Regions from separate parts of the Homo sapiens genome. Here regions 1 and 2 are each reported to be linked to region 3. Evidence: microRNA targets listed by miRTarBase, many of them from high-throughput screens and not tested one by one. Region 3 holds a microRNA gene; each other region holds the end of a gene's coding sequence.

What was found. Region 3 holds the annotated microRNA hsa-miR-3178 (GGGGCGCGGCCGGAUCG, at 4,815-4,831, shown strand). A microRNA usually pairs through its seed, bases 2 to 8, with sites in the 3' UTR of a target mRNA and lowers its output. Matches are read on the target gene's strand: a 7mer-m8 pairs with bases 2 to 8, a 7mer-A1 pairs with bases 2 to 7 and ends in A, and an 8mer does both.
Region 1: miRTarBase lists MPIG6B as a target of hsa-miR-3178. Seed matches in the 3' UTR shown: 7mer-m8 at 1,847-1,853.
Region 2: the mRNA of SVIP is a reported target of hsa-miR-3178. Seed matches in the 3' UTR shown: 7mer-m8 at 4,407-4,413.

Annotation. Positions count from the first base shown.
Region 1 is chr6:31,723,770-31,730,962 of GRCh38, forward strand. MPIG6B (megakaryocyte and platelet inhibitory receptor G6b) reads left to right here. Exons shown (of 6, transcript NM_138272.3): 2 at 1-217; 3 at 373-463; 4 at 818-858; 5 at 996-1,075; 6 at 1,201-2,945. The coding sequence ends at 1,305. DDAH2 (DDAH family member 2, ADMA-independent) reads right to left here and starts at 5,530. Exons shown (of 6, transcript NM_001303007.2): 1 at 5,096-5,530; 2 at 4,877-4,976; 3 at 4,682-4,755; 4 at 4,404-4,523; 5 at 3,774-3,923; 6 at 3,271-3,584. The coding sequence starts at 5,392. The coding sequence ends at 3,468. CLIC1 (chloride intracellular channel 1) reads right to left here. Exons shown (of 6, transcript NM_001288.6): 6 at 6,830-7,193. The coding sequence ends at 7,073.
Region 2 is chr11:22,816,714-22,823,906 of GRCh38, reverse strand. SVIP (small VCP interacting protein) reads left to right here. Exons shown (of 4, transcript NM_148893.3): 4 at 774-4,980. The coding sequence ends at 788. Among named protein-coding and RNA genes, the nearest start is that of LINC02718, 9.1 kb to the left of the region's middle.
Region 3 is chr16:2,529,631-2,536,809 of GRCh38, reverse strand. MIR3178 (microRNA 3178) reads left to right here and starts at 4,805; the gene lies at 4,805-4,888. AMDHD2 (amidohydrolase domain containing 2) reads right to left here. Exons shown (of 11, transcript NM_001330449.2): 11 at 5,393-7,179. It overlaps CEMP1 (cementum protein 1), which reads left to right and starts at 5,402. Exons shown (of 1, transcript NM_001048212.3): 1 at 5,402-6,775. The coding sequence starts at 5,737. The coding sequence ends at 6,480. RefSeq lists enhancers at 4,120-4,169, 3,470-4,171, 4,950-4,999.

The DNA.
Region 1 (7,193 bases), not on the chromosome of region 3:
TGGGCCTCTTCGAGCGGGACCCCCACCGTGCCTCCCCTCCAGCCTTTCGTCGGCCGCCTACGCTCCCTGGACTCTGGTATCCGGCGGCTGGAGCTCCTCTTGAGCGCGGGGGACTCGGGCACTTTTTTCTGCAAGGGCCGCCACGAGGACGAGAGCCGTACAGTGCTTCACGTGCTGGGGGACAGGACCTATTGCAAGGCCCCCGGGCCTACCCATGGTAGGTGCAGGCCTGTGCGCACAAGGGTACTTAACTCCGACACATACCCGGAGGAGGGAAGAGGGCCTTGGCTGGGGGTTCTTGAGCGGGACTGCTGGCTGTCCCTCGTCAAACCCCTGACCTCAGCATCCCTCCCCGCCACGCCTTTCCCCCAGGGTCCGTGTATCCCCAGCTCCTGATCCCGCTGCTGGGCGCTGGGTTGGTGCTCGGACTGGGAGCTTTGGGCCTGGTCTGGTGGCTGCACAGGTGAGCAGGAGGGACCCGGCCTCGTTAAATGGGGAGTGACCAGAGGTGGAAGGGGCAGGACCAGAACCTTCGCAAAAGAAAGAGCTAGACCTAGAGCTCTGGTCCTGGCTTGGCGAAGAATGGGAGAGGTCAAAGGTGGGAGCGAGGCCGCTGACTGGTGAGTAGAGCCCCACCAGAGCAGATGAGCTGGAAGTGCAGCAGAGTTAGAGCCTGGGCTGGACTGTCGGTGGGGTAGAGTCTAAGTTGTTTCCGGTCTGAGCCTTCAAGTTGCTGGGCTGTCCTTGGCGTGGCGAGTCCCAGGAGAACCAGTGAGACAAGACTGGTGGTTCTCAAAGACTCATATGTCCCTTACAGGCGCCTGCCCCCGCAACCGATTCGACCACTCCCTAGATTTGGTGAGACTAATTCCACCCCATTTTCTTTCTCCTACATGCCCACTCCCCACCCCTCAATTCCTGAGTCTGAGCCCTTGCTGGGAGCAGACACGTTGGTCACCTTCTCTCCATCCTTCAGCTCTGTCCCCCCCACATAGCTCCACTTGTGAAAACCGAGCCCCAGAGGCCAGTAAAGGAGGAAGAGCCCAAGATTCCAGGGGACCTGGACCAGGAACCGGTAAGGGCATGGGGATGGGAAGGGGATAGCCAGAATCTCTGAGGAAAATGGACCAAAAAAAAAAAGGCCTGAACCCCAAGGAAGACTGTGGAGACCATCTTGTCTTCCTCCCCTTCCTCCTCCAGAGCCTGCTCTATGCGGATCTGGACCATCTAGCCCTCAGCAGGCCCCGCCGGCTGTCCACAGCGGACCCTGCTGATGCCTCCACCATCTATGCAGTTGTAGTTTGAAGGGAAGCCCTTACTCCAAACCTCCCAAGCTAGGGGATCCCAGCTCCCCATAATCCCTCTCCCCTCCTTGGTTCCTCACCTGGAAGAGGAAGGCACCATGGTATAGAAATAAGTGCTAGACTGGGAGTTGGGAGACCTGGGTTCCAGGCTGTCTCTGCCACTGGTCTTACTTCTAAACTTACTCCCATCTCTCCTATAACCTCCATGTCTCCCTCACCACCAGTGTCCTCTCTATACCCAATCAAGCCCTAGCTCCTTTTTTTTTTTTTTTTGAGACGGAGTCTCGCTCTGTTGCCCAGGCTGGAGTGCAGTGACACCATCTCCCTCACTGCAAGCTCCGCCTGCCGGGTTCACACCATTCTCCTGCCTCAGGCTCCTGAGTAGCTGGGACTACAGGCGCCCGCCACCACGCCCAGCTAATTTTTTGTATTTTTAGTAGAGACGGGGTTTCACTGTGTTAGCCAGGATGGTCTTGATCTGCTAACCTCGTGATCCACCCGCCCCGGCCTCCCAAAGTGCTAGGATTACAGGTGTGAGCCACCGCGCCCGGCCTGATTCTTTAAGCTGTTTTTCTTTGTTGCTGGTGTTTTCTTTTTGGACTCCTCTTCCTTGCTCCATATCCCTACAGTATTTCCCACCATTCTAGGTTTGTCCCTTTCTCTTCTTCTGGGACACTCTCATCAACAGTCAGTCCTCAGCCCCCTCCTCTGCAAATGACACTCAGAACTCTCTCTGGCTCAGATCTCAGATTTGGGATTAACAAACTTCCACTTAGACATTCTGCCTGACTGACCTCAGGCATTTCGCACTCTGAATGTCAAACCCAACTCATTGTCATCTCTGAAGCTGCTCACTTAATTCTCCTCTGTATTCTCTTTAACAACCCAGTTGCCCAACCCAGAAACTGGGAGTCACGCAGACCTCCTTTCTCTCTTACTCCCACACAATGAGCCATGAAGTCCAGTCTTTCTATCTTAACATCACTGTCAAACCCACACTGTATTCCATGCCCAGCGCTGCCACGTGAATGTACTCTGCTCACTTCCTTCCTGGATTACCCATAGCCCCACCTCATCCTCCTACCCTTGCTTTCCTCCCTGAAGTCAGAGAGATCCTACTCAAGAGATAACTGCTCCTGACAGCCCTTATTACAGAACTGAAGTACTCTCCTTAGCTTCAGCTCTGTGCCCACGTGCCTTGGCTTTGGATACAAGGTACTACAGCACTTTGTCCACTCTCCAGGCTTACCTGTGTCATTCCACATGCACATCTTAGAAAATGCCAGCCTTAGAGAATTCTCCCTAGCCCCAAAATGTCTTTGCCCAGTGCAATTCCTTCTTCCTGTATTACCCCTTTCCCTCCTTCACACTATCTGCCTGGCTAATTCTTATTTATCCTTAGTTCAAGTATGGCCTTTTCTGGGAAGGTGACCCTCCTTGGCCACCCCTTGCATATACTTTGATGCCCTAGGGCGCACCCCCTTTATTTCCCTCATAGAAACAGCCTTCTGTAAATTGTTCCATGACAACCTGTATTTCAATTTGTAAGAAATTTGCATGTACTGTGAGCTCCCCAACGTCAGGAGACTGACCCTTTTGATATCATTGCTAAGCCTCATTAAATGAATGAATGAAAATGAATGTCCCTGGAAGTGTCATTTCTTTTTCTTTATCAAATAGGGGTGGACTGGTAATCTACCAGTCTCTGAATCATCTAACATTTAGATAAATTCAGTGAGCAATCCACCCATACACTCTTTTCTCTGCCCTGGACACACTTCCCATGATAGAAATTCTGTCTTGTTCATCTTGTGCTCAAGTACCTATGACATGGTTGGGCAATGAGTTGATAAGTACCTAACAAGATTTTTGAATAAGAGGCCTTCTTCCCTGCACTGACCCCAAACTCAGGTTTCAGCCCTGCCCTATCCCTTTGCCCCAGTAAGACACCAGTCACAGCCCAGTCTAAAAGGTCAATTCTATTTTATTGGTTCTGAGAGGGAGGATTCACCCAGTGGATCCTTTTCCCTACACTCTCCCCTCCCCCAATATTGAGGCTCTCTCCCAACTACTGCCTATTCAGCATTCTCTATCTAACCCTCCTTCCCCTTCTACTTCCTATACTATCCTACCCCTGGCCAGCAGTACCCCAAGGCCAGGCCCTCAGCTGTGGGGGCGTGTGCTGAGCACCAAGCAGAGGGAGCTGAGCCCGGCGCCAGCCTTCTCCAGTTCTGAGCAGGACACAGGTACCAGGGTGACATCAGAGAGCTTCTGCAGTGCCTGCACAGGGAAGACATGGAGTGGGGAGAGGGGAGTGAGACCTCAGGCTGAGCCAGGCCACTCTTCCAGCCAGCTCAGAGTGGCCCCACCCAGGCTTCTAGAGAAGGTACCCTTCCTTCCTCCCACTAGGAAAGCCTGAAACTCTTTTCTCTGATGGTGCTTGGTGTTGGAGTTCCTGCCCTCTCTCACCTCCTGGCTGTTGGGCAGATCCCCACCTCCACGGTGCAGGAGGAAAGGGGGCACACCAGGCAACCCAGGACGAAGAAAGAGACAGTCAGCAGCTGCGTCATCTGGGAGGGTCAGGGAGGCATATGGGTGATCTGTCAGCACTGCCATTGCCTAGAGGAAAGAGGAAGTGTTCGAGTCTCAGAACCTCTCCACAGCTGTGTCTGCCTGCTCAACCACCACTAAGGGCTGGGGACGGACTGACATTTGTGGAAAATAATGACAGCAAGCACATAGAGCTTACGATATGTCAGACACTAAGTACTTTAGTTACCTTTGCTAATTTCCACCTTGGAATCACATGCAGTTATTTTCAACCCCCTACCTTCCCCAGCCCCTCCTATCTGTCCTACCCATCCTTAGAGTCACAGTTTAGGTGCCACCTTTGGGGTTTCCTGAAACTCCGGAAGAGCAAATTAATCACCCCTGTTCCCAGTCCTGCTGTTGTAACTTCTTATTTTCTCCTGTGTTCTTTCATGTAAGATGGACAGCCCATTGAGGGCAGGGGTTAGGGCTAATTTCCTAAGCCTCCCAGCTCCCGGCCTCCCGGGCCCAGAACTGCGCCCACTTTCGTTGGCCCCGCCCCCTCCTCACCCGGACAGCCTTTTGGGCAGCGTCGCTGCTGCCTGCCACAACAGTGCGAGGTCCCCCCATGCCGCAGAGACCGCGCAGGTGGGAGGGACCCGAGACTGGCACAGTGGAGACGGCGAAGTCCTAGGGAGAGCGAAGGGAGGTATTCAGGGGCGCGGGAGGGGTGATGGGGTATCTTCAAACATAGGCTGCTCTCTGCCTCTCATTTCCTCAGCGGGCGCCCAGGCCCTTCCGACCCCCACCTGCACCCCCTCCCTCCCTAGGCTGGTCCCGCTCCGCACCCGGAACGTGTCCGCCACGATCTCAGCTCCTCGGTGATTGGTCCATTTGGAGAGGCCTACGAAAAACTCCCGGCCTGAGTCCGGGAGGCCGCGGAGGTTTGAGGGCGGGAGTGAGTTAGAAACAAGGCTCCAGACGGCCGAGTCTCCCAAACTCTACTTCCCTGTGCCAAGACCTATGCCTCCCCCCAGCCTCACCGGTGAAGAGAACGTCAGTGCCATCCAGCGTCGCGTTCTCGTCTCCTATTTCCACAATTCGGAGCCCCAGGTCTTGCAGGGCTTTGCGGACTCCATCGACCTTAGGATAGGAGAAGAGGGCACGGAGCTGTGACACCCCCATCCTCAATTCTTCCCCAAAGCCCCGACATCCAGTTCCTTCTGCCTTTCCCCATACCACACCCGCGCCACGGCGCTCACCTCTGGCCTACGAGCGGGGCTCCAGGGCCGCGTGATTAGGGCCGTGTCCCCTTGGATCACGGCCGTGTCGCCAAGCAGCGGTCCCAGCGGCAATGACTCCTCAGGTGGCAGTTCTAGCAGCTGTAGCCCCAGTCGTTGCCTCAGTTTACCTCCCAGCACCCCGTGCTCCCTTTGAGCTTTGGCCAGATCCAGAGCGGGAAGGCCAGCCCCCGCACCTTCCCCCGACGCCAGGCTCTCTGGGACTCCCCGGATCAGGGCATGGGAGCAGCGGCCCAGCCCCTCCCCCGGCGTCCCCATCCCATCCACACAGACTCCCCCTCCAACCGCTCGGATTTCTTAGTTTTCTTGTTTCTTCACCTGTCTGGGAGAAGAAACAGAAAAGGAGGAGACAGAGAAAAAGACATGCAGACAAGGGCGTTGGGGGTGGTTAAGAGCGCCCAGGTCTTCCTCCTGCCATCTCTAGGCGTCCCTCCCACTCCGCCCCACCCACTCCAGACCTTCCGCTCCTGTCGACCTCACTCTACCCAGCACCCTCAGGGGTCAGATTCTTTAAGAGGAGCCTGAGGAACAAGGCTAGGGTCTCTAATCTCCAAAACACCTGTTGCCCCTGCTTGGGGGCTTGTGAGGTCCCTGTCGGGCGCCCCTCTTGGCAGCCACTAGGATGCGCTCACTCCCCAAAAATGCAGCAGCCCCGCCCCCTTAACCCTCAGCTGCTCGCTACCGCAGGGACTGGAAGTCCAGCCCGCGACCCGCAGGGGTTATGGGACAGAAGGAGAAAGCTGGAGAGGCAGGGGCTGGGGAATGGAAGTCCTGAATACCCGAACGAGAAGGGAGAGAGGTGGGTAGGAAGGGAGGAGTTCGAGCCTAAGGAGTTAAGCATCCTCTCTCCGCCCTGGCTGGTCACGCTGCCCCTAGCGCGACCTAGTATAAACCAGACCGAGTCCCGAAGGACTGGGAGAGGTCTAAAACGAAATGCGAGGGGCGGGGTAACAGGGGGCGTGGTTCCGGGGCGCTGGCACTACTCCCGGCTCCAGGACCCGGTTCCCCGTCTATGTCCCAAAGTCCACCCCGCCTAGCTCCGCGCCCAAATACCGGCTCCCCATACTCTCTGTCTGGTGCAGGCATGGGCCCGGCACCCCCAAACTCCGGCCCCCACACGGTTCAGGGCCCCCCACGCAAGACTCACCTCCAGCGGCCACCCCCACTCCTGTCGCGCTGTGATCTCGGCTGGGGCCCCACCCCCCGAGGACAGAGTTGGTGGAGAAGGGAGTCCCCGTCTTCAAGCCTCGGGGACTGGGAGCTCTGGCTTTTAGCGCGGGTCCTTGTGTAGGCGAGCTCATATACTACGATGGGGCAGGGGCGCGACGGTCTGGCGGCTCCGGGGCATTGTCTAAGCGGGACGGGGCGGGGCTTCTTCGGGCCACGCCCATTCCGCCCTGCTAAGCCTCGCCCATTACATCCAGACTGCGCCCCCCTTGCCAGAAATCGGCACCGCCCAGCGAGCGCTGCCCAGGCCCACCCAGATCTGGCCGGCCCTGGCGACGGGGCTGCAAACGCTTCGTAGACCTCAGAACAGCGCAACGGCGGACCGGCGGACCGGCACGAAACATAGCAGCCCCACCACAAACATTTCCCTTCTTAATTCCTGGCTTCTGCCCTGAGCTCAAGATCACTGACCCACCCCTCATTCCATGTCGCCCACACTTTAAATCCCCATTGCGTAAAAACACTTGATTTTTATTCTGTATTTTATTACTGAAATATGTTGTCCTACTCATCCCACCCCACAATAAAAATCTGACCCAGGCCCCCCATTTCTTTCCCTCATCCCCTCTTCCACCACACCATCCCGGAACAAGTGCTCCAGGATTCCCTGCCCACTGGCCATTTTGGAGTGTGTCCATTGGGTAGCAATGTGGAAACCACCAGGGCCTTTGTGGAGAAAATGGAGGGGGTTGAGGGAGTCCCAGGAGGGGCTTATTTGAGGGCCTTTGCCACTTGCTCATAGGCGAGCTCGATCTCCTCATCATCTGGACAGGTGGAAGCGAATTCTTCCCGGGCGTAGGCATTGCTCAAGTACCGATGCACTCCCCGGAAG
Region 2 (7,193 bases), not on the chromosome of region 3:
TACAAAAATAAAAAATAAATTAGGTGTGGTGGCATGTGCCTGTGGTCCTAGCTTTTCGGGAGGCTGAGGTGGGAGAATGACTTGAGCCTGCGAGGTTAAGGCTGCAGTGAGCCATTCCCACCTCACCCCAGCCTGGGCGATAGAGTGAGACCCTGTCTCAAGAAAATCCCAAAACAAAACCAAAAACATTTAACGTGGAGTGAGTTTATTACTTACAGATTGGCAACAAGGGACAACAGAAGCCTAGGATTCATTATAAGCTTGTCTCCCAAGGAAAACTGCCTGGGGTTGATGACATCTGTGTGTGCCCCACTTGAACCTCAGATGAGTGCCCTGGGTTTTATGACCTGGGGGTTAGAAGGGGAGGTACTACATGACTCCTTGGGCTAAAGCATTGAAGGACGTCCTGTCTTTAGGGAGGGACTGGAACAGAACTTGAGCTGTCCTTGGCCATTCATTTGCTATCCCAGGATGTTACATTCCCAGCACATTCTACAGTTACTCTTGAAAACTACAGGCAAGACAGTGAGACAGAGCTATCCTGCAACTACCCACCAATCTGACCAGATATTTTGTCTTCTTTATGCTTTTAAACTATCATCTTATTTCAGGCTTTGGACTATAATGTAAAATTTTATGAATAGCTGCTATTCAGAAAAATCATTTTGTATTTCTATGTCCCATATTCCTCTTTTTACCTGTTTGTTCACTGAAGTACTGTTATATAACTTCAAGTAAAATTTACTTTTCTGTCTCTTTTTTATCTTTTCTAGTGGACAGTTTCATAAAGCATAACATGAGTAGAAGAATCTACTGCCAATAACTGTTTATTATCTGCAATCAAGTGGGCTTCATCAATTTAATTTCTTCTCTTTGAGTAAATGAAGATTCAGACTTTGTAATATTATTGCCCTTAAGTGCAATGCTAAAAAAACGTTGATTTTCAAGCTTAGAGAATGGCTAGACTTTTCATTAAATACTGATTTTCCTACATTTGCTCTTCTGCAGTTAGTGGGTGATTTGCTATTTTTCTTAGTAGTTAAAAAATGGAACTAAATAGTGAATATACATACACTGCATGTAAACATTCTGCATATACCTCTAAGATTAAAATTCGCAGTTGTCTTTTCATCCTTTATAAAATGATCTAACTACTTATATTTGTGCTGCATCGCGTTACATCTGTTTTTATTTCACTATGAAGATGTTTGATTAAACTTATGGACTTAGTGCCTTTAAACTGATCATCAGGGAGAATCTTGAAAAAATCATTTGAAGGGCTGATGTGAAGGAGCACTGTAAATTTTTATAACTTAGTAATGAGTATTCTTAGGCAGATGTAAAATTTTTTCCAATTTATTTTTATTTATGTAGCTTATAAAATTAACATACCCTGTTTTACTTTATGATAAAGGATTTTTTGTTTGCTGAATTTAAAATTATATATTAGTGATACCATCAGAGGGCAGTGATGTTCTATTGTATATTAAATTCAGCTCTGTAAGGATCTTTGTAGTAATTGAATGAGTTAAACTAATAATCTGGATGGGTTATAATGAGTAGTAATATATTTGTCCATATTTCATAAGTAGTGTTAATCTTGTGTACTTATTAGAGAACGATCATAAGATTTATACAGATGTGAAACTGCGAAGGCAAGTATGAATGTATGAAAAAAACATGTAGGTACTGTACTTACAAAAGGTCTACTTCAGATATAAAAATATTAGGTAATTCTATACAATGCATAGTCATAAACCTTAACATTTTTGTTCATTAGAAACATGAATTTTATAGCATTTTTTGTTTCTCCTATATAATACACTGAAATAAAAGAATTTGTGTTAGCTATTAAGGCTGATAGCTCTTTTAAATGGCAAGGCCACATGTTGAGCCCTAAATTAAAATTTGCAGATATTAAGTGCTAATAGAAATTTTAAGTTAAATCGACCAAGTTCACTTGCTTTACACAAAGGAAACTGAGCCACTATCTTCATCTACCCCTCCAACAAAAATTATGTTATACTGCAGTGTATTGTACATGTTAATTTTTAAAAGTTTGAACTATTATATAATACAGGTCTCTTGACTTCTCATGGAAAAATTATTTTTTCTATTATGGTGTGAAATATTGTGTGAATATCTAGGCAAAACATAACAATTTGGCTCAATTTTCTTCTTTAGAGGATTCGTGCTGTTTTTGTTCATAAAGGGTAGTGAAATCATTGAACTATATTTTAGAATGAAAATTTTTGATTTTATTAAAATGATTTTTTCAAGGCAGAAAGTAAAAGGAATGATTGATAGCGGAGTGCATATAGAGCTAGAGCATATCATCCTTGAACTCTGCAAATCCTTTCTTCCATTTTAATATAGCAAGAACAATTTTGTCTTTACTACATCTTAAAGAATTAGAACTTGGGTTGGTGTAAGTGACTTACTTCCAGGGAATCATGCCCTATTTCTACCAGCAGGTCATACCCAAATGTCACACTATCTATTGTTAACCATGAATGATATTCAGATCTATTACTTTTCGTGAAAAGTGGAACATGTTACTTCCAACCATGGCCTGTCACCGTGAGTGTGATCAGCTTTCTCCAAAACCACATGGGTCGCAGGAGCTAAGGGGTGGTACCCAAATGTTAGGAACAGTGTTAGGAAAGGGCAAGGGAAAAGAAGTGACTGGATGTCTTATGAGAAACCGGTAAATGACTAAAAAAAAAAGCAAATGACTAAAAACATGACTAAAAAATTATATATATATATAATATATATATTATATATGTGTGTATATATATACACATAATATCTGCAAATTCTAATTTATATATGTGTGTGTATATACACACACACACATGCACATACACACATACGTCCAGACATCTCCCTCATAAAATAACCATCAGTTTCTATGAAAACCTTAAGTGGAAGCCAATTTCCCATAGTAAATAATTTAGGAGAAAATTATAATGCTTAAAATGTTGCTCAAACCCCTGACCTATTACTAAACTATAATTGGAACAGTAAAATGCATATATGTAACTATCATATCATGATTTAAAATTGCTTAAACCATTGCTGCTTAATACTAATCAAACTTAACGGCTGCTAACAAAAGTTGTGAATTATTACACGGCCTCTTTGTAACGTGCTGCATGTTTTTTAAAACATCTCTGTGTTTCTGTTTGTTCCACTGCTGGTATTTGGAATGTAATTTAACAGTTCTCACACATGGTTTGGTTATAAATTCTGTATTGCCTTTTAGGGATATAAATATACATTTTTTTCTATGTAAAAATTAGCTTTAGCTGTCTCTTTAACAAAATTTTATCTTTACTACATCCTAAATACTTAGAACCTGAGTTGGTGGTTAGGGAAACCTCAGGAACATTTTAATCACATTGGGATTCAGAAGAGCAACAGAACCAAAGGTTGTTTGGTGTGTTCATACAATCCCTGGATTTATAGGTGGATTTTCTATAAAGGAAAAATGATGTAATTAGTATCCTGTTTTTTCCTAAAGAAATAATACTATCATAAAAATTCTGTCTATCCTTTGTACCCCAGGAAAATGGACATGAACTTTGAATTTTCCCTTTCTCCAAATGTTTGACTTTTTATTTTCACTGATAAGCATTATGCTATGTTCTTAGAAGACAAAAGCAGCTCTTGCCAGTTTTGAATAATTTCTGCATGAATAGACCAGTAAGAGGTAAGTAGCCATGACTGCCTATATGTGTTGAGACATAAGGTATATTTCTTTAACATCTCCAAGCAAGCATTTCAAATTCTCTTAACTACTAAACATGCTCTAAGCTAATTCAAATATAGTATTGTGGCTTTTTTCTTCAATTTTCTCAAAAGCTACAGACACAAGGCATTTGTATGTATAACAGACTTTGATGAAGTTTTGGTTCCAGTAACTCAAAACACTAAGTTTCCCATTTGATATGGCTTTTTATTGTTCTAGTCTCCCTCTTCTAGTTATGCTTCATCTTGCAAATATTGACTTTGAATGTGATAACTATTGCCTACAAATTAAGTATTCATACATTACTCCTGTGGATATCATACTTTTTTGTTATTATATCCTGAATTGCATTGGCTTTTTTTGGTTTTGTTTTGTTTTTTGAGATGGAGTTTCACTCTTGTTGCCCAGGTTGGAGTGCAATGGCACAATCTCAGCTCACCGCAACCTCTGCCTCCCAGGTTCAAGTGATTCTCCTGCCTCAGCCTCCCTAGTAGCTGGGATTGCAGGCATGTGCCACCACGCCTGACTAATTTTGTGTTTTTAGTAGAGACAGGGTTTCTCCACGTTGGTCAGGCTGGTCTCGAACTCCTGACCTCAGGTGATCCCTGCCGCCTTGGCCTCCCAAAGTGCTGGGATTACAGGCATGAGCCACCGCGCCCGGCCTGCATTGGCTATATTTATAATACCAAATTTGTGTTGAGTTTTGAGTTAATGTCTTCTAGTTATCAAAACAGGTTTGATCCATTCTTTGCAAGTACCTCTAACTTATCTCAAGTGGAACTAATTAGTTTTGCACACAGATTGGTGCTCTCTAGGCTATTTCCCTGAAATTTATCTTGTTACATAAGTCAGATATCAAGGAGTTATGCTAAACTCCTTTTCCTATCAAACTCCTAAAATGCCCTTTTCTCTGTCTATATTTCTTAGACATAGTTACATTATAAATGTAACAGATATATTTAAAGTAGGTTAATACCAAGTGTCTCAGGTAGAAAATTCTCAGAGGTTCCACAAAAACTTCTGGAACTAATAAATGACTTTAGTAATCTTGCAGAATGAAAAGTATATGAAAGTCAATTCTATGTTTATATGCAAGCAATGAAAAATCTGTAATTGAAAGTGGGAAAATTTAAATTACAATATCAACAAATAAAATATTTAGGAAAAATAAAACTGTAGACATTAAAAATGACAAAACATTGCCAATAAATTAAGATCTAAATGAAGAAACATTGTATGTTTTTGGATTGGAAGATGGTAATTCTCAAATGGGCCAGTAAATTCAGTGCAAAATCCCAGCAAACTTTTCTAGAGAACTTAATAAGATGATCCTTGAATTTATATGGAAATGCAAGACTTAGAAAAGCCAAAACAGTTTTGAAAAAACAAAGTAGGGAAGTACTAGCCAGAGCAGTCAGGCAAGAGAAAAAAAATACAAAGCATCCATATAGAAAAAAGTTGTCAAACTCTCTCTCTTCGCTGACAACATGATACTATACCTAGACAACCCTAATGACTCTGCCAAAAGGCTTTAAAATGGATAAACAACTTCAGTAAAGTTTCAGGATACAAAGTAAATGTGCAAAAATCAGTAGCGTTTCTATACATCAATAATATTCAAGTTGAGAGCCAAATCAAGAATGCAATCCAATTTACAATAGCCACACACACAGTAACTACCTAGGAATGCATGTAACCAAAGAGGTGAAATATCTCTAAACGGTGAATTACAATACACACTGAAAGAAACCAATGGAAAAATGTTCCATGCTTATGGATTGGAAGAATCAATATCATTAAAATGGACATACTGCCCAAAGCAATCTATAAATTCACTGCTGTTCCTATCAAGCTACCAATGTCATTTTTTCACAGAATGGAACAGAATAGAGAATTCAGAAATAAAGCTGCACAACTAGAGCCATCTGGTCTTTGACAAAGTTGATGAAAATTGCAATGGAGAAAACACTCACTAGTCAATAAGTGGTACTGGAATAACTGGCTAGCTGTAAGCAGAAGAATGAAACTCAAGATGGATTAAAGAAAGATTTAATTGTAAGATCTCAGATTATAAGGATCCTAGAAGAAAACCTAGAATACACTATTCTGGATATCAGCCTTGGGAAAACATTTATGCCTAAGTCCTCAAAAGCAATTGCAACAAAAATAAAAATTGACAAGTGAGACAAACAGTTTCTGCAAGCAAAACTATCAACAGAGTAAACAGACAATCCACAGAATGGGAGAAAATAATCACAAACTATGCACCTGACAAAGGTCTAATATGCAGAATCTATAAGGAACTTAGTTCAACAAGTCAAAAATAACCCCATTGAAAAATGGGTAAAATACATGAACAGACGTCTCAAAAGAAGACATACAAGTGGCCAAGAAATGTGAAAACATGCTCATCATCACTAATCAGATAACCAAATCAAAACCACAGTCAGATATATTTCACGCCAGTCAGAATGGCTAGTATTAAAAACTTAAGAAAACAACAGATGCTGCTGAGGCTGTGGTGAAAAGGGAATGCTAATACACTATTGGTGGGAATGTAAGTCATTCAGTTCAGCCACTGTGGAAAGCAGTTTGGAGACTTCTCAAAGAACTTAGAACTGGTATTGGACCTGGCAATCCCATTACAGGGTATATATCCAAAAGAAAATGAATCATTCTACCAAAAAAGCCATGCATTCATGTATGTTCATTGCAGCACTATTCACAATAGCAAAGACATGGAATCAACCTAGGTGTCCATCAATGGTAAACTAGATAAAGAAAATATGATACATATATGCCATGGAATATTACACACAGCCATAACAACAACATAATTATGTCCTTTGCAGCAATATGGATGCAGCTGAAGGCCATTATTCTAAATGAATTTATGCAGAAACCAAACCAAATACCACATGTTCTCACTTATAAGTGAGAAGTAAGCATTAGATGCTCATGGATGTAAAGATGGCAACAATAGATACTGGGCACTACTCTAGAGTGGGGAGAGAGGGAGGAGGGCAATGTTTGAAAAACTGACTATTGGATACTATAGTCACCTGGGTGATGAGATCAATTTCACCCCAAAGCTCAGCATTATGCAATGTATCCATGTAACCTTCATGCGTACCCACTGAATGTAAAATAAAAGTCAAAATTGTCTTTTAAAATTGCAATTGCTGAGAAAAGTAGGAAAATTTATACAGCCTGATATCAAAATGTACTATAACGTCACAATAGTCAAGATAGTGTGGTATTGGCCTAAGGATAGCTGCTAGATCAGTGAAATAGAATAGAAGGTTTAGAAATAAACTTACATTTTTTACAGGGCACTTCAATGGAGAAATGGGGAAATAACATTTTCAACAAATGGTGCTGGGAAAACTGAATCCATATGCCAATAAAATTAACTCAAGCCTTTACTTCACACCATACA
Region 3 (7,179 bases):
TCCGCCCGCCTCTGCCTCCCAAAGTGCTGGGATTACAAGCGTGAGCCACCGCGCCCGGCCAACTTTATTTTTTTTTATACTGACACATGCCCATGCAGTTCTTGAGTAATGCACAGAAAAATCGGAAGCAGTGAAGGACAAACAGCTTGAGGAACTAGTACACAGTGAACTCTAGAACACGGAGCCCAGGGTGGAGGAGCCTCGGGGCAGGGGCCAAGGGCCAAGGGTCAAGGGTCACAAGAAGAAAGCATCTGAGCAGGCACCAGGGGACAGGGGAGAGAGGGGCAGCTGAAGGTCAAAGAAGAAAGGACAGTTCTCAGTTGTCCTGGGGGCCCCAGTGGCAGCCAGAATGCTTGGCCAAGCCCAAGGCAAGCTAGACCAGGAAACCCCTCGCCCTCTGGCGACACAGACAAATCTCCCCATGGGTCAGGTCCAGTGGCTCATCCCAGGACACCGCACAGACAGCGGATGTCTCACCTGGCCCAGCACGGTTCTCCCGACCCGGGCTGGAGGAAAGAGACTGACCCCTCTCTTTATCTCACCCTTTCCTGCCGAGAACCTCTGTCTATGGCCAATGGATGACCTCAGGCCAAGAATGCAATAACTTGGCCTGACGTTGTGAGGTCACGGTCCATCCAGGGAGGGGCAAGAAAATGACCACAACCATCCCGGGAGGGGCTGGAAAGCTGCCTCATGTGCGTGGCACTGTGCTGCGTCTACGTGTTCCTCACTCGCCTCTACAATGCTCATGGCACGAGGGAGGAAACGGGGGTGCAGAGGCTAAGGAACGTGCCCAAAGCCCTACAGCTGGTGTATTAGTTATATACTGCTGTGTAACAAATTGCCTCAAAACTTTGATGTGTAAAACAACAAAGAAACTCATGGCTCCTGCGGGTCTGGAATCCAGGAGAGGCCAGGCTGGGTGGTCTGGCTCAGGCTCTCTTGTGAAGTTGCCATCAAGATGCTGCCAGGACTGAGTCATCTAAAGGCTAGAGCAGGGCCGAAAGATTCACTTCCTAAAAGGTTCATTCCCACGTTCCCACAGCTGTGGGCTGGAGGCCTCCGTCCCTCACCAGTGCGGCCTCTTCCCAGGCGTGTGTGTTTTCAAGCCCCAGCAGCTGGCTTTCCCCAGAGCGAGTGGCCCAAGAAAAAGAGAACACACACAAGATAGAAGCCGCTGCGTCTTTAATGACCTAACCTCAGAAGTGACACACCATCACTTCCAACACATCTGCTGGTCACACACAACCCTGGTAGAAAGTGAACGGGCGTGTTTTGGGAGGCTGAGGCAGGAGCACTGCTTGAGGCTAGGTGTTTGAGAGCAGCCTGGGCAACAAAGTGAGACCCTGTCTCTAACAAAAAAAAAACTTTTTAAATAAAATCTTTTAAAAAGTGAAACAAGGTTACACAAGGGTATGAAATCCAGAAGGGGCCATTCCTGGGGGCCCCCCTTCAAGCTAGTTGAGGACAGAGCCAGGATTCCAATCTCAGGGAGAGACACAGAGAAGCTAGAAGCACAGGCCCAGCCTGGACCCTGCAGGTGTGCACACCAGAAGGCCCTGAGTTACAAAGCCAGGGAAGGAAGGGCTCTCCCAGCAAGGATCCCAACCTGGATTGCATCTCTAGACTGACCCTGAAGCTACTCAGTAGCGTCTGGAAAGGAGACTAAAGGGGAAAATAGGGGGCAGGGAGATCAGGTGAGAGAAAAGGGGGCTCTCAAAAGACAAGAGCACTGGCTAGGCGCTGTGGCTCACACCTGTAAGCCCAGCACTTTGGGAGAGTGAGGTGGGTGGATCACTTGAGGTCAGGAGTTGGAGACCAGCCTGGCCAACATGGTGAAACCCCGTCTCTACTAAAAATACAAAAATTAGCCAGGCATGGTGATGGACGCCTGTAATTCCAGCTACTCAGGAAGCTAAGGCAGAAGAATCTCTTGAACTCGGGAGGCAGAGGTTGCAGTGAACCAAGATCGCACCACTGCACTCCAGCCTGGGTGACAGAGGGAGACTCTGTCTTAAAAAAAAAAAAAAAAAAAAGGTCTCCTGGCTGCCTCTGGCCCACAAGGCCCTGGTCACATGTCTGAGGCTCCCAATATACATTCGCTGGGCTGCGGATACATGGATGGATGGAAGATACAAAGTCATTCAGTGGTTTCCAAGCCACCAGGTAAATATCCTCCCATATAAGCCATACCAAGGGAGAATCAGACTTGACTGGGAGTCAGGAAACAGAAAGTTGCATGAGATCTTAGGCAAGTAATTTCCCCTCCTTAAACCTCAATTATCCCCGCTGTAAAATGGGCTGGCTCAACAACTGCTAAAAGTCCCAAAAGTGGAAAATATCCAGTGTTGGTAGGAATGCAGAGAAAGGGGCACGTTCATGTACCGATGATGGGAACATCATATTTCCTTTAAACCTGAGCACTGGGAATTCCTGTCCTAGGCCCTTCTCTCTAAAAGGCAGAATAATGTCCTCTCCAAAGATGTTCTCATCTTAATCTCCCAACCTGTGAATATGTTATTATATAGAGAGACGAATTAATCAGCTGACCTTATAGCTGGATAATTATGGCTAGGCATGGTCGTTCAAGCCTGTAATCCCAGCACTTTGGGAGGCAGAAGCAGGAGGATGATTTGAGCCCAGCGGTTCAAGACCAGCCTGGGCAACACAGTGAGATCCCATCTCCGTAAAAAACTAACAAAAACTGGGCGCAGACCAGGCGCGGTGGCTCACGCCTGTAATCCCAGCCCTTCGGGAGGCCGAGGAAGGTGGATCACGAGGCCAGGAGTTTGAGACCAGCCTGGCCAATGTGGTGAAATCCCATTTATACTAAAAATACAAAAATTAGCCAGGCACAGTGACAAAAATTTAGCCCAGGACTTCAAGATCAGCCTGGGCAACATAGTGAGATCCCGTCTCTTTAAAAAACAAACAAAAACTGGGCGCAGACAAGGCGCAGTGGCTCACGCCTGTAATCCCAGCACTTCGGGAGGCCGAGGTGGGTGGATTACTTGAGGCCAGGAATTACAGACCAGCCTGGCCAACACGATGAAACCCCGTTTATACGAAAACTAAAAAAATTAGCCAGGAACTGGAGGCTGAGGCAGGAGGATCACTTGAACCTGAGAGGTTCAGTGAGTTTGCAGTCAGCTGAGGTAGCATCACTGCACTCCAGCCTGGACGACAGAGTGAGACTCTGTCTCAAAAAAAACCAAACAAACAAAAAAAACTGGGCGTGGTGGCTCACACCAGTAATCCCAGCACTTTGGGAAGCCGAGGCACGCACATCACGTGAGGTCAGGAGTTCGAGACTAGCCTGGCTAACATGGTAAAACCCTGTCTCTACTAAAAAAAAAAAAAAAAAAAAAAAAAAAAAAAATCTGGGCGTGTTGGTGCATGCCTGTAATCCCAGCTACTGGGAAGGCTGAGGCAGGAGAATCACTTGAACCCAGGAGGCTGAGGTTGCAGTGAGCCAGGATCGCGCCGGGCTGGGCAACAGAATGAGACTCCGTGTTAAAAAAAAAAAAAAAAAAAGGCTGGGCACAGTGGCTCACGCCTGTAATCCCAGCACTTTCAGAGGCCTAGGCGGGCGAATCAATTGAGGTCAGGAATTCAAGACCAGCCTGGCCAACATAGTGAAACCCTGTCTCTACCAAAAATACAAAAAAATTAGTCAGGTGTGGTGGCGTGCGCCTGTAATCCCAGCTACTAAGGGGGCTGAGGCGGAGAATCGCTTGAACCCGGGAGGCGGAAGCTGCAGTGAGCAGAGATCGCACCACTGCACTCCAGCCTGCGCAACACAGCCAGGCTCCGTCACACACACACAAACCGAACTGCAAAGTAATAGCAAAAGTGTAAACCCATTTAGAAAAAACGTGTGTGACATAAATGTGATAAAAGGAACAGGGCCAGTCTGGGAGGGAGTACCCGGACGCTCCGGAGCTGTCCCAGACTCCAGGGGCGGAAAAGCCGGGCTGAAGAGGTGCCCTTCCTCCACGCTTCTGGTGCCAATCTCCCCTGCTGCGCCCACCCTGGGTCCCTAGCCTGGGCTCCAAACCAACTCCGAGCTAGGGAAGCTCCGAGCCAGGGTGCTTCTAGAGTGTCCGGCCCACCCCTCCGCTTCATTTCCCAAGACAGTGAGGGCGGGGCTAGAGGCCAGGTGCGGAGGTGCGGGACAGGAGCCAAGCTGGGTCGTAGTGGGATCCACCTGTGCGTGATACGTAACAGAAGGGAGAGGCGAGGCGCGGGGAGGTCCGCAGGGATGTGGGAGACGCGACGGGGAGGACTGGGACGAAACAAACTAGGTCCGCAAGGGTATAAGGGGAGCAGCTCGGAGGGTTGGGGCGAGGCGGGGTCTACAGGGGTGTGGGGGGCTTGGCAGGGAGCGCTGGGGCGACGCGGAGCTCCGCAGCGTTGGCGGGGAGCGTTGTGGGGAGACGGGGTCTGCAGGAATGTGAGGGCGCGGTGGGGAGCGTAGCGGGGTATGCAAGGTTGTGAGGGTTGTGGATGGGAGGGCTGGGGCGAGGCGGGGTCCGCAGAGATGTGGGGGGCGCAGAGATGGGGGGGGTCCGCGGGCCCGCCGGGGACCGCGCAGCCTCGGGCTCTGTGCCCGGGGCCGCGCGGGTTAACTAGAGAAGGTGACGCGCGCCCCTGTTGCTCAGCCGCGGCGCGTGCCTTCCCTGCGGCGATCCTAATTGGCCCGACAGAAGCCCGCCCCCAGAAGCCCCTCCCACAGTAGGCAAGGCCCCGCGTGCCGCAACGCTCCCAGAGTTGCGCGTCAGCCTGGACTCAGCGCCTGCGCTACGAGGCTGGGCGGGGCGCGGCCGGATCGGTCGAGAGCGTCCTGGCTGATGACGGTCTCCCGTGCCCACGCCCCAAACGCAGTCTCTGGCCTGGATGTGCTCGGAGCCCACGAGGTGCAGAGGCTCGGACGGCGAAAGGGACCTGGCTGAGATCTGGGTCTTAAACCGCGGGCTCGGCCCAGCATCCCGGCAGCGTGCGCCCACAAGTGACACCCGGCCGGGCGCGGTCTGCGGGATCGCAGGCGCCGGGTCTCATCTCCAGTTCACACACGGGACGAAACGGGCCACCCCTACCAGCTCTGAGAGCATGCACCTCCAACTCCATCCCTCCCCACATGCCCGACCCCCCAACCCGTAACTCAGGCAGACACCTGGGCGTCCCCCTTCAGCGAATGCCCACACCGCGGGCAGGCCTGCCCCTCACCCCGCAGTCAGGGCGCCCTGCATCCTTCTTTGTAAAACCCATAGCTGTAGAGGGAGCGGAATGGTGGGGCAGGGCTGGGAGCCCAGCGGGAGTGAGTGGTGGGGAATGATGGTGGCCAAGGTCACACAAAGCAGTGAATTCACTTCATGTCACAGAACTGCTCAGGTTACGATAGTTACTTTTGTTATGTATTTTACCACAATTTTTAAAAAGCAAACCAAAACCAACCAAGAGTGCTTCCCCCACACCTCAAAATCATCCTGCAGCAGCTCCCTGGCCCAGCTCTCTCTCACCCTGACCCTGGGCCCCTCTCCCACCACCCAGGGCTAGCCCTGTGGACCAACCATCTCTGCCAGCCCCTCCCCGACCCTCCAGCCAGGGAGGTGGGGCGCTGGCCGGTGAATGGGGCAGGCCAGGCCCAAAGGCTGGCCCAGGGCTCACCAGCTCTGGACTGGGCGTCCCGTCTGAGGTGGGGATGACCAACATGCCAGCTCTGGGTTTTAGCTGAGGATGGGCACATCAAGCACTGACAGCCAGCAAGCTGGGCACAGGCGATGCTCAACCTCTAACACATCGGCTGAGAACCTCACCTGCCTCTCCCTGCCTGGGAGCCCTGGCAAGACAGCTCCTCTCCCAGGCCCAGCACAGGCAGGCGCTGGACAGCCACTTCCTAAGGGGTGCGCGGCCGTCAAGGCAGAGGTGGGTATCCCTGCACCTCACACCTCTCAGGAGGTCAGGATCCACATCCGTCGCCTGCTTTCCTGGGCTGCCCCTGGGGCTTGTGGGCTGAGATCAACCCCTTGTGCCCTGCCCCAGGCCCTCCCTCAGGCGAGGCCCTGCCCAGGCAGGTGGTTCTTCCCTGGCTGTTCCCTTCCAACAGGTGGGGCCCAGACCATCCTATCTCTTTGGACCTGGAGACATTTCCTTAACTGGGCTTTGCAGCAGAGGGAAGAGAACAGTGGCAGAGCCAGGCGCGTACCTCCTGTGCCCAGGACAGCACCTGTAAGCAAGGGGGAAGGGAGCCACCCACCCCAGAACTCAAATGGAGAGAAAGTCAAGACAATCACCCCTGACGTGGGGCTGCACCAATCCCTGACGTCTGACCCCACTGTGGCTGTCCTCAGAGCCAAGAGGGCTCCAGAAGCCCACCCGCCTCGAAGCTGTTCAGGGAGCCTCACGGCCCGTGTTTGCCACATGGGTGTGTGCCAGGGCCAAGGGGACACAGAAGATGGCAGGATGACACTAATGGGGTGAGCAGGGCACACTGGTGCCTCCCATACTGCCCTCCAGCACCAGGCAGGGTCACCACAGCCGGCAAGCACTGGGCCTGGGGATGTGTGAAGAGATAGGGTTATTGAGAAGAGAAAACAGAACGCTGGTCATCCGTGGCACTCAGGGCTAGGCAGTCCAGGGAGCAGAAAACAGGGGTCCCGGGCCCAGTCTCCCTCCTGGAGGTCAGAGCGGAGCCCCTGGCACTGTGCCCTGGCCCAGAACCAGGCTGTGGGCTCCACGCTGCACACCCCAACTCAGGAGCAGAAAGCAAACCCCTGACTGTCCACACTCCCTGTGACTGGTCCCCTTCCTGCCGGCTCTTCACCCCCAGCCCATGGTGGCTTCACCCCATGGCACCAGCCACTGACTGCCTGCCCCTCCCTCCCATAGTGACACTTTCCTGGGGTCTGCAGGTCTCCGGTCCACTTCATGCAGACAGGCCCTGTCCCCCACTGGGGCCCAAGGCCCAGGCTAAACTACAGCCCAGCCATCCCACCCCAGGCCGTGAATGCCTTCTCCAGGAGGGCAACCAAGGATGGTGCCACATGTGAGCACAAGCAAAACCCGGAGCCAAGGCGAGTCCTGCTGGGTGCACGTTTATCCCAGCCACCGCCTCCAGGGCGGCCGCACAGGCCCTGGGCATCAATCCAGCAGGGCTCCCGACTCACTCCCTGGAGACCA